Linked DNA regions of Homo sapiens: region 1 is linked to region 2. A link means that fine-mapping ties the variant in region 2 to the expression of a gene that starts in the linked region. Tissue or cell type: monocytes after R848. Region 2 holds a variant in brackets; the other region holds the start of a gene. All regions are shown on one strand. Distances are between the middles of the regions.

Evidence for each region. PIP is the estimated chance that this variant, and not a neighbour inherited with it, causes the effect.
Region 1: MAP3K5-AS1 starts here. The variant in region 2 is fine-mapped to the expression of MAP3K5-AS1 in monocytes after R848 (Quach 2016, PIP 0.90).

What each region holds. Positions count from the first base shown.
Region 1 is chr6:136,624,615-136,632,798 of GRCh38, reverse strand. MAP3K5-AS1 (MAP3K5 antisense RNA 1) reads right to left here and starts at 3,685. Exons shown (of 3, transcript NR_125858.1): 1 at 3,523-3,685. All of the region lies in intron 14 of MAP3K5 (mitogen-activated protein kinase kinase kinase 5), which reads left to right. It also overlaps the pseudogene RNA5SP219.
Region 2 is chr6:136,590,856-136,599,039 of GRCh38, reverse strand. MAP3K5 (mitogen-activated protein kinase kinase kinase 5) reads left to right here. Exons shown (of 30, transcript NM_005923.4): 22 at 6,426-6,603; 23 at 6,699-6,867. Among named protein-coding and RNA genes, the nearest start is that of MAP3K5-AS1, 34 kb to the left of the region's middle. RefSeq lists an enhancer at 4,392-4,551. The variant G/C (reference allele first, on the strand shown) is at 4,417.

The DNA.
Region 1 (8,184 bases), 34 kb before region 2:
TTCCTGCCTTCCATGTCTTCATTAAAAGTAAAGGCATCCAGCAACCCAAGCCAGATTCCTGAGAAACCCCTCCCAAACCCGTCTTAATCCCTCATGCCCGTTCTTTCCTGCAGCCCCTTCATTTCATCTTCTTGGTCACTCCCCTGATCTCAGGTCTTCATCCTCTATCATAGCCTAACATGTCTCATGCTTTGTCTCTGTTATCATCAGAGAAATCTCTCATACAGATTTAATCCTGCGACTCCCCAGATTAAAAACCTTTGATGCTCCTTTTTGTTTTTTGATACAGAGTCTCACTCTGTCACCCAGGTGGGAGAGCAGTGGCGCAATCTCGGCTCACTGCAACCTCCGCCTCCTAGGTTCAAGCAATTCTCCTGCCTCAGCCTCCTAAGTAGCTGGGACTACAGGCATGCACCACCATGCCCAGCTAATTTTTATATTTTTAGTATGGAGTTTCACCATGTTGGCCAGGCTGGCTTTGAATTCCTGACCTCAAGTGATCTGCCTGCCTTGGCCTCCCAAAATGCTGGGATTACGGACACGAGCCACCATGCCCAGCTGATGCTCCTTTTTGTAGAAGGAAGTATTTGCACCATACAACATTCTCACCCCCTCTGGCTGTAGCTTCCCCTTTCCTTTCCACTCTGTGGTCCAGCGGTGCCAGCCTCCTTTCCACTTTCCAGGTGGCCATGCTTCTCCGGCCTCTGGGCTTGACATGCAGACGCCCAACCTCACAAACTTTTCTCCTCAGTCCCACTTAGTGACCAAAGCCTTAATTTTTCAGATCCAGGTCCTGTGTCCTTTTCTCTTTGAATCATTTCTCAACTCCCCTTCTTGCTTTTCTCTGTTCTCTTAGCATTTTGGCCCACTCCTCTGGCCTAGCTCTTCTCCATGCATTGTAATCTGGTAGCCTGCACTGGACTGGACTGTTAATGTCCCATGGCAGGATGGTGGCTTTTTGCCCTTTTTAATCACATGAGCTCACATGGTGCCAGGTGTCCAAGTAAAAGAGATTCAATCTGAAGGGTTTGAAGCTGGGCAGTGACAAAATCAGAGTTGTTTTAATATTAGGTTGTAGCAATAATGGCAAAAACCACAATTACTTTTGCACCAACCTAATATCTCAAACTGGGAGGAGAGAGATATGGATGGGAGAAGGCCTCCAATCCATATGGACCTCTCTGCTTGAGCCCGAGAGGTCAAGGCTGCAGTGAGCTAGGATTGCGCCACTGCACTCCAGCCTTGGTGACAGAGCCAGACCCTGTCTAAAAAAAAAAAAGAAAAAAAAAAGTGACATTATTTTCATTTGACTCAAATATCTGCAGGAAGATGGAAGACCTTACTGTTTTCTTTTCTGATGATTGGCCTCATATACCTTAGTAATTATGGTTCAGAATTTATTTTAGTCAGTTTGGAATCATCATGTAGCAAACTCTTTTTTAACATCCTATTTCTATTTTTGTGCAGATATGAAGCTGAATACCCACAGTTACTTCCCTGCCTGAGAAAATACATCACTTATAGTGTTGTATGATATGAGTATCAATTTGTTATTCATTCATTCATTCTGTTGGGAACGGGGAAAAGCCTTTTTCTTGTACCAGCTTATGTTCAATGGTCAGGGGCCTGCAAATTAACTGACAAAAGACAAGTTGACAGGAGAGCAGACAAACTTTATTCTTTTGTTTTGTTTTATTTTTGAAACAGAATCTCCCTCTGTCCCCCAGGCTGGAGTGCAGTGGTGTGATCTCGGCTCATTGCAGCCTCTATCTCTTGGGCTCAAGCGATCCTCCCACCTCAGCCTTCTGAGTAGCTGGGACTAAGGTGTGCACCACCATGCCTGACTAATTTTTGTGCTTTTTATAGAGACAGGGTTTCACCATGTTGCCTAAGCTGCTGCCTTGGCCTCCCAAAATGCAGAGATTACAGATGTGAGCCACCATGCCTAGCCAAAATTTATTCATGTAGTCAATGCTAAGTCAATGAAAGAGACTTACACAAAGAATTGGCTCCCTAAACAGCTAGAGTTGAGTGTTTATATATCATCTTAGTAAGAAAGAGGGTTAAGACTTTAAGAAAGTGTATGGTGGGAGACTAATGAGAAATAAGTGTGAGGAACAGAAAGTTTTGATAAGGTTTTGTTTATGCAACATCTCCTCTAGGTGCAAGTGGTCTATCTCCTCTTTGGTCATTAACCTCCTGGAGAGGAAATAAATGGCAGATGTATTTTAGGAGGCATTGCTTATGTCCGCAAAAGAAATTTAGATAAGGTTTTTTTCTGCTGCTGCTGTTTTTCTGATGTTTTCAGCCTAAAATCATCTTCATCCACATCAGTGGGTCCAAATGGATCTCACTAATGCACTCACATATTTTTGGACAGCTATTGAATGGTAGGCACCATTCCATGTGCTGGAGAGATGGCAGAGAACAAAATGGAGAGAAATTCCTGCTATCACTGAGAGCTTACATGCTCTCATCTAAGTCTTAATCGGGCCCAACTCTGCTTAGCTTCCGAGATCAGAAGAGATTGGACGCATTCAGGGTGGTATAGCTGTAGACTCAGGTTACTTTCTAATGAGAGACGGACAATAAACACAAATAAGTAAAATACCATCTATAGTATGTTAGATGGTGATCAGGGTTAAGGAGAATAATAAACCAGGGAAGGGTTTAGGAAGTTACAGTGTAGCAGGGACGTGCAATTTTAGATAGGAAGGCCTGGGAAGCTCATTAAGAAGGTAAGATTTAGGCCGGGTGTGGTGGCTCATGCCTGTAATCCCAGCACTTTGGGAGGCAGAGGAGTTGGATTGTTTGAGGTCAGGAGTTTGAGACCAACCTGGCTAAAATGGCGAAACCCCATCTCTACTGAAAATACAAAAATTAGCCGGGCATGGTGGCAAGCGCCTGTAATCCCAGCTACTCGGGAGGCTAAAGCAGGAGAATCGCTTGAACCTAGGCACTCCAGCCTGGGCGACAGAGTGAGACTCTAAATAAATAAATAAATAAATAAATAAATAAATAAATAAATAAATGAAGGTGAGATATGGCCGGGCGCCATGGCTCACACCTGTAATCTCAGCACTTTGGGAGACCAAGGCGGGTGGATCATGAGGTCAGGAGATTGAGACCATCCTGGCTAACAAGGTGAAAGCCCATCTCTACTAAAAATACAAAAAATTAGCTGGGTGTGGTGGCGGGCACCTGTAGTCCCAGCTGCTCGGGAGGCTGAGGCAGGAGAATGGCGTGAACCTGGGAGGCGGAGCTTGCAGCGAGCTGAGATTGTGCCACTGCACTCCAGCCTGGGCGACAGAGCGTGACTCCTTCTCAAAAAAAAAGGTGAGATGTGAGTAAAGATCTAAGGGAGGAGAGATCCATCACACTAGATATTTGTACCTGCAGTGTTTTTGGCATTCTATTAATGTTATTAGTAGTTATTAATGTTTTGGCATTTACATATAAAGAAGGCCATACAGACTGAACATTAACAGAGCTGCCATTTGGGTCTTTGAGGTGATTACTCACCTAATGTGATTAAGCCCCCGCCGAAAGTGCATGGTTTTTTCTAAGGTGGTTGTTTCCTTCGAGAGTGCAAGGACTCAGTGAGTCACCACTTCGTTGTTTGGCCTTGTCAATGTTGCCTTCCTACACTGATTCTCTTCCCGCTACCAGTTTTGATTGTTCTGAGCAGACAGCAATAAAGAGATGATTCTAGAAAAATTCTCATGATTGCCTCAGAATGAAATTCTTGTTTCCCTTAGCAACAACCTGATTTGCTAACCTATTACCATAGAAATAGAATGCAAAATATATAAGCAATGTAATGTTACCTTTTATTTTTTAAAACCCTCTCTTCTACTATTCCTGGACATTACATAGATGATTCTCTGTCCTTCTAGGCTGAACCAGTCTCTTGTTTCTTTTCAGCTTTCTTTCAAAACTGCCATTTCAATTTCTATCTTTATCTCGTAAGAATAGAAAGGGGAGATAGAAAAACAAAGCAGCAATTACCCACAGAGATGGTTTTACTTAAATAACACTGCTCTTTTTACAATTCCTTTTCATTTTACTATCACCATTTTGTTTAACAGGAGTCAGCTTCTATATCTAATCTTCTATATCTAATACATAATCTTTTAAATCTGTATCTAATACGTAATCTTTTAAAAAATAGTCTTCTGATGCCTTAGATTCCTAGGGGAAATTAAAACTTTAGCAGCCTCATCAAGGTTTATGTATTCTTCACTCTTCTATATAAGCATACCTGTTGTAGAGCTGGACCTGGTGGTGTGCACCTGAGTCCCAGCTATTTGGGAGGATCACTTGAGCCCAGGACTTTGAGTCCAGCCTGGGTAACATAGCAGGACTCCATCTCTTTAAAAAAAAAAACTGCTGAGTATGATGGCTCCCACCTGTACTCCCAGTGGTTGGGAGGCCGAGGCAGCAGGATCAGTTGAGGCCAGGAGTTCAAGGCCAGCCTGGGCAACATAGCAAGACCCCATCTCTACAAAAAATAGAAAAAATTAGCTGGACATAGTGCTGTACACCTGAAGTCCCAGCTGTTGAGGAGGCTGAAGTGGGAGGATTGCTTGAACCTAGGAGTTCAAGGCTGCAATGAGCTATGATGGCACCACTGCACTCCGGCCTAGGCGACAGAGCAAAACACTCTTTAAAAAAAAAAAAAGATTTAAATATATCTATTGGAAAAATGCTTTCACCCAAGAATAAACCAATAATGACTCTAAATGTTTTGTTTTGGGATCTAGTTCTTTTCTAAAAAAGTTCTCATCACATTTTTCTATAACTTGATTAATTAGTTAAGCAAATAATTACTGAGCATCTACTACAAGCTACATGCTAAAACTGGGGATAGAGTAATTAAGGATGAAGTCCCAAGTCTCGAAGAGCTCAAGTGTCCAGACGAGGATGACAGAGGTAGCCGTAAGATCTTGAAGGGCATTGTCTTGGTCCATCCAGGCCGCTATAACAAAATGCCTTAGGCTGGGTAATTTATACCCAATAGAAATGCTTTGCTCACAGTTCCAGAGGCTGAGAAATCCAAGATCAAGGCACCAGCAGATTCAGTGTCTGGTGAGGGCCTACTTCCTCTAGATGGTACCTTCTGTGGGTGCTCACATGGCTGAAGGCTCAACCAGGCTCCTTCAAGCCTCTTTCATAAGGGGACTAATCCCATTCATGAGAGCTCTAGCCTCATGACCTAATCACCTTCTAAAGGGCCTAACTCTTAATACATTGTGATTCGGTTTCAACATACAGATTTTGAGGGCGCTGAAGAGGGGGGTACGCAAACATTCAGACCATAGCAGGCATTTATGCTGTGCTAAGGAGTTTGGATTTCATCCGGAAAGTAACAAGCTGCCAATAAAATAGATGCAGTGGCACTGACATGGAAAGTTCATGTGGAACTTTGGACTTTGGAAAGTTCACTGTCAATTTAGTGGAGAATAAATTGGGGAATGGAGCAACAAGAGAGGAGAAAAGCCTCTGAACTTTTTTTTTGCAGAGAAGTGCTTTTCTTCTGTGCTACTTCTACAGAGATTCTGAGGCAACTCCGGTGAGAATAAGGAGGTAAAATGGATTTGTGAGATTTTAAGAAGAAAAATCTGAGAACAGTTGGCAATAAATTTGAAATACATAGTAAAAGAAGGAAAAAAACAAAATTCTAAGAGGACAGTGGCTACCAGATGTCTGCTAAAAAAAAGCAAATGGATGTTCCATGGATATTAACAATATACTGTAATATCTTTATAACACTGGTATTTGGAAACAACTAATAATCACCCTGTAAGCTCTTATTCTATGATAGGGTTTCCCTAATGCATAGGTAGTGGAAAGGATACAAAATCTGGAATCTCACAAGCTGGTTTCAAACCACAACTCTGATATATTTTCACTGGAAAAAAAAATTTCTGATCATTTGTAAATTGAAAGTAATCAGAAACCTATTACACATGCTTATGATGATAAGTGAGGTGGGTTATTGAAAGTTGGTTTTTTTTTTCCTTTAAGATTATAAAGCATTGTAGTGTAAAATGGTGGTGGTACTAGATGGAGTGTATAGGTTTCTAATCCTTTGAGAGGGCACATCGGCAAAGTTGAGCTTCTTTACCTGCTGCTGGCTGGGTCCCACTGGTGGAATTCCAGCGTGGCAGGCACAGCATTGCAGAAGTCTAGACTACAGGAATTGGGTGTGGAGACTTGGGCTCCTTCAGGTGGCGTTGTTTGGATTATGCTTCCTGTCTCCTCGCAGGAGCCCAGTTTTAACTCTGAGTTAGAGCATGTTGCTAAATGATCCCTGCTGCCTGTTCCTTCCCTCTGATCACCTATCACCTGGTCACTCTGATCATCTACCCTGGACCAAGACAGTCTTCAGCTTTATGTTAGGCAGCCAGAACAGGGCTATTCTCTAATGTGCCACTGGATACTTGGCAATGGGTAAGTAGTCATCTCCCTTCCAGAGCTTGGCCTCTGTCCTGAGCCAGAGAAGAATTCATGCTAAGGAGGCCAGTGCTCACTCCAGCCCTAGCATTGTATTAGGCATAATTTTCCCCAGAAGACACCACCCGACTGCCTTCTATAAGGGCCTGAAAACCTGTTGGAAACAAATAACCTGGAGCTGGTAGGGACATGCTCCACCCCAGCCCCATCCTCTCGAGTCATGCGTGTGTACCCAAGAGTTTGCAGAGCGATCTGATGAGCTACCTTTGTAGGTAATTTGCCCTTTTATGATCTTTTTGTCTTTCGTATTTTGTAGTTTCCCTATGTCATATCTCAGTGAGTTTGTTTTTATTTTTCCTATTTAGGGCTGAATTTCTGGAAGTTGTATTCAATTCTCTTTCAAGTCTGGCCTTTTTTAGAATATCTTATCTTCTCATTTTTAAATATTTTATATCTTTATGTTAAATGTACATATTTTATAACTATATTCTATCATTTCTGACTTAATGAAGTCTTGAGGATTGAGATTTGTCATATATGTTTTCACTGATGTTGAATTGTTTCCTTACATAGTTTATATTTTTTGGATTGTGAGTTCAACTTTAGTGGTGCATTATCAGTAAGAATTCTGCATAGCAAACTTCAAGGGGTCTGCCATGAAAATGTTTTTGCTTTGTTTCTGCCAGGCACTCCAGGGATATCCCAGGCTCAAGAGCAATTATGAGTATTATAATAAGTGTTAATTTGAAGTTCAAACAGCACCAGGATCAGCTGTGGTTGAAAGTGTTTAGAGAAGACCTATTTTTGCTCCTCCAGAGCTCAGTCTTGAGACAAACCAGCTTTCTTTTTGTTTCACAGTGTAGTGGGCTGACTTTTCTGATCTACCCTTTCACCAAGGGCCTGGTTTTGTGTGTTTCTGCTCTTTGCCTGGCGTAGGCACTAGGCCATACTTCCTATCCCCTCCTGGGCATTAAGACCCAAGCCCCACATGAGAGGTCAGCAAACTATAGCCCCAGGATCAAATCCAGCTCACTCTTAATCTTGGTAAATAAAGCCTTATTGGAACATAAGCATGCCCATTTGTTTATATATCAGCTGGGCTGCTTTCACATCACAATGGCAGAATTGAGTAGTTGCTACAAAGACTAGATGGCCCTCAAAGCTAAAACATTCACTATCTGACCTTTTACCAAAAAAAAAGCAGACAAATTCCCGCCCTAGATTAATGAAACTGAAAATCTTGCCTTCATCCCCACCCTTTGGGCTGCAGGAGTTCTTGTGATTACCTGCTAGTATTCCTTTCCTCTTCATTTCTAGCTTCTGCAGTCACCTTTACTCTTTAGTAAGCCCAGCTAGACATTTAAAAGTATGTCTGTTTTATTTTACCTATGTGTTTTTAGCAGGAAGGTTCTCAGGTATCTGGTCTACCATCTTGCCAAATCCAGAGCCTCTCTTCTACTGTCTTGGTAGCAATATGTTATTCTTTTTCTGTTTCCTTGACTTGACCATTAAACTTATTCATGTTAAATTTTTATTTTCTAATGGATTTTTTTAAGATCATGAAATTTTTCATCTACCTAACTCCATATCTATGGAATTTGATAAATAATGTTTTTCTTCTCATTTAAAAAATTACTGTGTAATTCCCATGGTCATTTCCTTTTTAACCCATTGGTTATTTTAAAGGAAAGTAAAATATACTTTTGGCTGTCTTATTTTTAGTATTCT
Region 2 (8,184 bases):
ACTACCACGCCCAGCTAATTTTTGTATTTTTAGTAAAGACGGGGTTTCGCCATGTTGGCCAGGCTGGTCTGGAACTCCTGGCCTCAAGTGATCTACCACCTCGGCCTCCCAAAGTGCTGGGATTACATGTGCCACCATGCCTTGCCTAAAATCCCATTTGATTGTTCCCAGGTATTATAGGAAATGGCCTGCCTCATGTCAATTGAAACAATGACCTATTAGCTCGTCTTACTCTCCTTCTAGATGAGTACAAGATACAGGCCTCTTCCTTCCCCAGGTACTTTCTATAGGCCATATATGTGTTTCTGTCCAGAGCACAGGCCCACCTCTCAAGGTTCTCTACCTCCCATAACTGCACTTGGCTTCCCCTCAAGAGGGGAGTAAGAGGGTGGTGACAATGAGACCCCCTTCCCCTTTAGAGAGGGACATGACTTGTCTCATCCTGACTGCTCTTCCATGGCCACACACAGACCCAGAGATTTAAGTAATTCATGTCAGCTTAAATATTAATTGTACAGTTATGGTGTGCACAGGAAATGTGCTAGGCCCTGAACGTATAAGGATGATAAAGACAGAGTTCCTGATTTTAAAGAGCCATTGACCTTATAGGAGAAAAACACTGGAAAAAATCATCTCCACCATAGTATAGTTTAGTCTGTGCAGAGGAGTCAAAAGGGAGAGACAGTGACTGAAGTCAGTCTGAGAATGCTGTTTCAAGGCAGACTTTCCAGTGAGGTGCACCTGATGAGTAAGGACAAATATGAACTTAACAGGTGAATGGGGAGTGGAGATCCAGGTGAGGCGACTTCTCGCATGAGTTAATGCCAGGATGTGTGAAACTTTACTGTGTGTTAAGGGAGGCTTGCTGGCTCAGCAGCACTGGTGCTTAAAGTAAAAGGGGAGGGATGATGCTGGAGTGGGGAGCAGGCTCAGATCCCAAAGGGCTCCTTATGAAATGTTAAGGAATCAGCAAGGAGGGTTGGGGAGCCGGGGAAAATTTTTATCTGAAATAATATTATAGACCAGCACTGGACCTATGATTCTACAGTAAGAGAAATGTCATTTATCTGCCCTGTCCAATACATTAGCCACTAGTCATATGTGGCTATTAGACACTAAACATGGCTACCATGGCTGAGGCACTGAATTTTTATTATTTAAATGTCAGTGTTAATAACCATATGTGGGTAGTAGTGACCATATTGGACAGTGAAGCTATTGATGGATCATTCCGATGGCTGTGTGAGGATGGTTTATTTAGTAAGATTTATTCCATAACATTTTTAACCCTCTGCTATGCACTTGGCACTAGAATGTAGGCACAAGGCACTAGGAATATAGCTATGCCTCAGTTGGTCCCAGATCCTGCCTGCATGGATCTCTTGCAATGCTTGTTAAAAATTAAAATGCCTGGCCCTTCTCAGAATCTGGAGGTGCAAGCTGGAATTCTGTACTTTTAAGTAAACCCAGATGATTCTTGTCATCACTGCAGTGTGAGAACCACTATTCTATGTTTGGCCAGTTGGAGACTGGAGGCAGGATGGCCAGTTAGGAGACTCTGTGTTGTGGCCAGACTGTTCCTAAACTGTCTAGGAGAAGGAGAACCATAAAGATCCCTAGTGATCATGAATAGCTGTTAGGATCTGAGGCCACCCTCACAGCAATGGAAGGGATTTAGAAAATCCCCGTTTTCCCAAAGCAGGAATGTATCTAATTCCTTAAAGGTCGCACTGTCTCCCTTCCATAGATGGGAGCTCCCAGCAATCTGGAGTCCATAGGGTTGCCAGTCACCCCTCCTGACTCCAGCCTACTCCTGGCCTCTTGGTAAAGCTATCTCTTAGGGGATATGGGGCTCACACCCCTTCCCATCAGCCCCTGAAATAAGGCAATGAGAATCATCTCCTTAGAGACACACCTTTGACATGTCCTATCCTCAGAGAGGTTCATTCAGCCTCTTTTAGACTCTTCGTGGTCAGCCCCATAGAGGAGGGCTTCTTAATACCTGGCAAGATATCAGCAGTAAGGCTGCCTGTGACTGGAAATCCTGCCAGGCTCCTCTCTTGCAGCCTGGGGTCCCAATCACTCACGTGTATGAGCTTATGTTCGAGGAACTTGTAACCTCTGTGATATCTGGAAACTGTCACCGTGCTCCCCTGGAAATAGTTACACTTGAGCTTCTTCCCATTTACAGTGACACAGAAAGGCACTACGCATTCTCACTTGCCTGGAAATCGTCATAACTTAAGAAGGTAGAAATCTCAGGCGTGGATTTGATCATATTTCCACCACAAACGTATAAAGCAAACTGTCTCAGCACCACCTGTCTTGCTCTTTCCACCCCTTACAATAGAGAAAACATCCATTTTCCTACAGAAGGCCAATCCCTCACAGATGAGTTCTGGCTCCTGTGGAGCCCCCGTGACTCCTCCAGCTTCTGCCTCTCCCAGTGAGTTCCATATACACATGCTCTAATGTCTTTTGTCCTAAACCCGTCCTTCCCCTGATCTACAAATGGCCTCACTGGCTGACACCACCACCTTTTTTTGCCCCACATCACAGCTTCCCGTCTTGAAGTACAGTGTCTCCAGATCTCCACCTCTTCCTTCCCACCCATGTAGCGTCTCCCCTTCCACGCGATCACTGGGCCTGCTCTGGCCAAGATCTAATGAGATCTCTTTAGCCAAATCCAACAAGTGCCTTTCTCAACCTACTCAACTTCTCAGTGGCTCTCAGCCTGGATGACTGTTCTCTCTTACTTTCGCCCTCTCCTGTGTGGGCTTCCATGACACCCCATTTTCTCTGTTTTCCTCCAACCTCATGGCTGCTCCTTGTCATTCTCCTTGGCTGCCTGTTCATCCCCTTCTTTTCCTCTAAATATTGGCATTCTTAAGGGCCGGGTCTATGCTGTCTTTTTATCTTTCCCCAAATTATGTCATCCTTTACTTTAAATACCATCTCCAGCCAGGTAGGCTGCTGAGGTTCTATCTAGCCCAGTCTTCTGAGCTCCAGACTCATATCCAATTGCTTTTTTCTTTTTTAGATGGAGTCTTGCTGGCGGCTGGAGTGCAGTGGCATGATCTTGGCTCACTGCAACTTCCGCCTCCTGGGTTCAAGCAATTCTCCTGCCTCAGCCTCCTGAGTAGCTGTCACTACAGGCACACACCACCATGTCAGGCTAATTTTTGTATTTTTAGTAGAAGCGAGGTTTCACCATGTTGGTGTCTTGAACTCCCAACATGAGATAATCCTCCTGCCTCAGCCTCCCAAAGTGCTGGGATTACAGCCGTGAGCCACCGCGCCCAGCCGCCCAATTGCCGTCTTCATTTTTCAAACTGAACTGTCAAATAACACCCCTTATCCACTAAAAAGAACTTTCCTTTTTGGCCTGTATTATTTCTCATCTTAGAATATAAGTACGATATGCATCCATTCAGTTTCTTAGGCCAGAATTCTACTTTGGAGTCATTTTTGATTCTTCCTTTTCACACTCTTCACTCCAGTCCATCAGCAACTCCTGCTGGCTACCTGACATATAGTAGATGATCCACAACTGTATGTTGGATGAATGAATGCATGTGCCTAATAGAGAAGGGGACTCAATCTAGAATCAGGTTCACTCATTTAAAATCAAGCAGGCCGGGTGCGGTGGCTCAACACCTGTAATCCCAGAACTTTGGGAGGCCGAAGCAGGTGGATTACTTGATGTCAGGAGTTTGAGACCAGCCTGGCCGACATGGCGAAACCCTATACAAAAATTAGCCAGGGGTGGTGGCACATGCCTGTAATCCCAGCTACTTGGGAGGCTGAGGCAGGAAAATCACTTGAACCTAGGAGGCGGAGGTTGTAGTGAGCCAAGATCATGCCACTGCACTCCAGCCTGAGCAAAATAGTGTGACTCTGTCTCAAAAATAAAATAAAATCAAACCGAGGAGGGAATCAGGGCTCTGCACATAGAACATGCAGAATATCTGTAAGTCCCTTTATTTCCTTAACGAGCCATAGTGACAGGCACTCGGTTCCATCCTTAAGCATATACAGTTTTACCTCATTAGGCCTCCTTTTAGGCAGTCGGTAGTCACAGCAACGTTAAAATTCACAGGCGTGACACAAGTCCTCTCATTACTGGATAATCAAACCACATGATATGACCAAAAAGCCAAAATACAGGATAATTCAAGTCCTTACTCCTTCTCTTCTTTAGATACACATACATTTACCACACACACACACACACACAAACACGGAAACACACGATAGGAATCCCTCATCTTGTACTCTTCTAGTCTAGTCTGTACTAGTCTCTTTACTCCCAAGAAACAACAATTTTGTCTTTGAAATATGAATGATGCACACCTCCGTTTCTGAGTGTGGCATGCATCTCATAAAAATGGGCTGGTGAAGAAACTCACCAAGTCT[G/C]AAGGATCAGCAGTGAGTTCCACTGCAGGGCTTGTATCCCTTCTTGTAAAGAGATCAGCTACTCAGTCAAGCCAAGAGCTCTTCTTCAGCTGTATTCTTCCATCAGTAACATTTAACTTTAGGGACTTGACATCTCATAGCAGTGAAACTCTTTCTCCCAAGCAGCTATTTTTTTCTGTTCTAAAGTCCGTTCCCCCCAAATAGCGAGATGTTGACTCTAAAGTGAAACAAGGCACACTATAGACCTTGACCTTCCCCAGGAATGACTCAAAAGCAGTTTGGTGTTTGGGCCCCCCTTCAAACCTTTCTTCTCTCAGACAACCTTACTATTACCAGCAAGGAAGAGGTCACCCATTTCCTTTCTGCTGTAGCAGCACTGCCCAAAATATGGTCCGTGAAATGCTAGGCCCATGAGCTGCTCCAGAATATGTGGAAACAATACATGCCAGGCATTTCCCCTGCCATATATCATTTGCATACTGGTACTTAATTGGTCAATTCAGCAACTCTTTGTGGCTTCCTCTTGCTTCCTGCCTTCTAGTGATTCAGCTACAGAACTATTTAAATAACAGCAGATAAGTCAACCAATTCATCCTGGGGAGACTTTCCAGTTACTGACCAGTAAGGTGGTTTCCCCCGAGGTCAGCTGTTCCTGAAAGCTGTATGTACTTCCGTCTTTCTCGCTACAGCTGAAACCAATGTCATGAGTCCCCTATCCTTGAGATCAGGGCAGTTGATTCAGTTCAGCCCAAGAGGAATTAAGTAAGAAGGAGATTCCAGGCAACAGTGGATTTCCTTTTCTATAATTTTATACCTTCATTCTTTATTAAAATGCTTTTGTAGCATTAGGATGTGTGTTTGATAAAGATGTTTCTGGCAAAAACCACTTTCTTTTTTTTTTTTTTTTTTGCATATCTGTCCATAGGATAGATCATGGACAGTATTTTATTGTGATTCAGATACCCGTTTCTCTCATTAGGAGTGAGGCTGAGAAGTTTTATATACATTTGGGAGCTTTTTGTGTTTTTCTTTCTGTGAACTGTTCAGGCATACATATACAGAGACTGACTAGCTGTCCTCCAGACCTGTTTCCTTTTCCTTCTGGGGTTTCCCAGCCTCCTGGCAAGTAACTGTGGCTGGTGGACTGAGGCTTGGGCAATGGATGGTGGGCCCGAGTGGCAACTCACCCAAGCATGATTCATAAAAACTTCCTATGAGATCCTCCTACTCTTTCTTCCCCATCTGCTGGAAAGATGTTGACACCCAGAGCAACCTATGAAGCTTTCTTTAAAACCAATGTTTGAGGAAATATAGGCAACTCCACTGTCTTATTCTCCATCCAAATAAAGAAGCAGCTCATGTCTACTAGAGAATCATAGTATCTGAGAACCAGGACAGACCTAAGAGATCATCTAGTCCATCTGTTTCCAAAATTTGTTTTCAGTGATGAATCCTTTTTTATATGAATCCTTAAGCAGAACTGTGATATATGACAGTCAGCATATTTTCTCTGGTTTCAGGTATAACAGGATTGGAACCTGTGGTCTAGACCTACAGCATCCCACTCACTCATCCCAACCAAGGCAGCCCCAAGATGCTAATGGAGACACTTAAGCCCCTGAAGAACAGGCTTAAAGATTATCAATCTGACCCTGAATTTGATAAATATGAAAACTGAGACCCATAAATAGAAATAATTAGTAGTCAGTAAAAATGAGGGGATCAGACCCTCAGTAGACCCACTGAACTTGGGCTTCCTTGACTGTTTTGGTACCCCAGAGATATCCCTCCCAGGGCCTGGGAGGCCCTTTCCTGGCTACCCTGCTGTATGGGTTATGCTGAGCAAGGGAGGCAGTCATAACACATGACCGTTCCCTTACATAGCATAATTATGCTGCTCATTGCAACAAGATATTTGACAAAGAATATGGCCTCTTTCAATGGGTGTTTCAGTATGTGTACATTTTTTAAAGTGTCAATTATCTTTTCCCTCCTCTCATCACAAGCAGAATATCTCAGGAGTATATCCTTGCCGGTACCTGTGCTGGTGGAGGACACCAGCAGCAGCAGTGAGTACGGCTCAGTTTCACCCGACACGGAGTTGAAAGTGGACCCCTTCTCTTTCAAAACAAGAGCCAAGTCCTGCGGAGAAAGAGATGTCAAGGGAATTCGGACACTCTTTTTGGGGTAAAGACCTGACTTACTTGGGGTGAGAGAAGTGTGTTGTTAAGTGTGTCATTTTATAAAGGGAACTGTGATTTATGCTGCATAAATTTTCTCAGCATTCCAGATGAGAATTTTGAAGATCACAGTGCTCCTCCTTCCCCTGAAGAAAAAGATTCTGGATTCTTCATGCTGAGGAAGGACAGTGAGAGGCGAGCTACCCTTCACAGGATCCTGACGGAAGACCAAGACAAAATTGTGAGAAACCTAATGGAATCTTTAGCTCAGGTAAATCCTCTCCCAGGTGCTTCATTTCCCAAAGGTTACATATTTTATCTGTGTCCTAACCGCCTGCAGCTGTCACAGATGATGTGAAAGGCAAGAGGAACCTGTAGTGATCATCATGATAAACCTACCCCACAGGAAAAAAGAAGGCAAACCCTATGGTAGGGAATATATTAATATGAAAATAGGGAAATGATTTTTTCATTGCATTTTTGAACATAAGCTATTTTTAAGTCAGAAGCAAATTTTTCACATTGGTGACATTCCAAATAGCCCCTACAAGCCTCTTTTACTCTTCATTCATTTGTTTATTCATTCCATCAATAAACACACATTAAGCCATGTGAGTTGCTAATTCTGACATTAGCATGAGGCTACCTGCCAGTCGCTCCTCTCAGCATTTGGGAAACATCAGCAAATACAACAGAACCCCTGAGCTTGTAAGGTTATATTTAAAAGGAGGGTGAAGGGCAAAGGGAAGTAAATTGTAGTGAGTCTTCACTTAATGTAGTTGATAAGTCCTTGGAAACTGTGACTGAAGCAAAATTACATATAACCAAACCAGTTTTGCCGTAGACTAATTGACATAAACAAGAGTTAAGTTCCTATGGCATATTTCTGGTCACAAAAACATGACCAAACTCCTAAATAAAGACTAAAACACTTCTAATATTCTACATTGAAATAAATGTGAACTCTATATACATTTAAGAAAGATGAATAAAAACAAGATAACTATCTACCCAGTTCAAGGCCATGGGTGGCCAGAGCCTATTCTGGCAGCTCAGTACCAGGCGGGCACCCGCCCTGGAAAGGACACTATTCCACTGCAGGGTACATACACACACACACCCACACTGAGACCACGTAGACACACAAATGAACCTAACGTGCACATCCTTGGGATGCGGAGGAAACTATATGTATTAGTCTGTTCTCATGCTACTAATAAAGACATACCTGAGACTGGGTAATTTATAAAGGAAAGAAGTTTAACTGATTCACAGTTCCACATGGCTGGGGAGGCCTCACAATCATGGTGGAAGGTGAATGAGGAGCAAAGTCACATCTTACGTGGCGGCAGGCAAGAGAGCTTGTGCAGGGGAATTCCCATTTGTAAAACCATCAGATCTCATGAGACTTATTCACTATCATGAGAACATCACAGGAAAGACCCACCCCCATGATTCAGTTACCTCCCACTTGGTCCCTCCCATGACACATGGGGATTATGGGAGCTACAATTCAAGATGAGATTTGGGTGGGGACACAGCCAAACCATATCACCAGAGTACCCCAGGTAAGGCCACACAGACATTG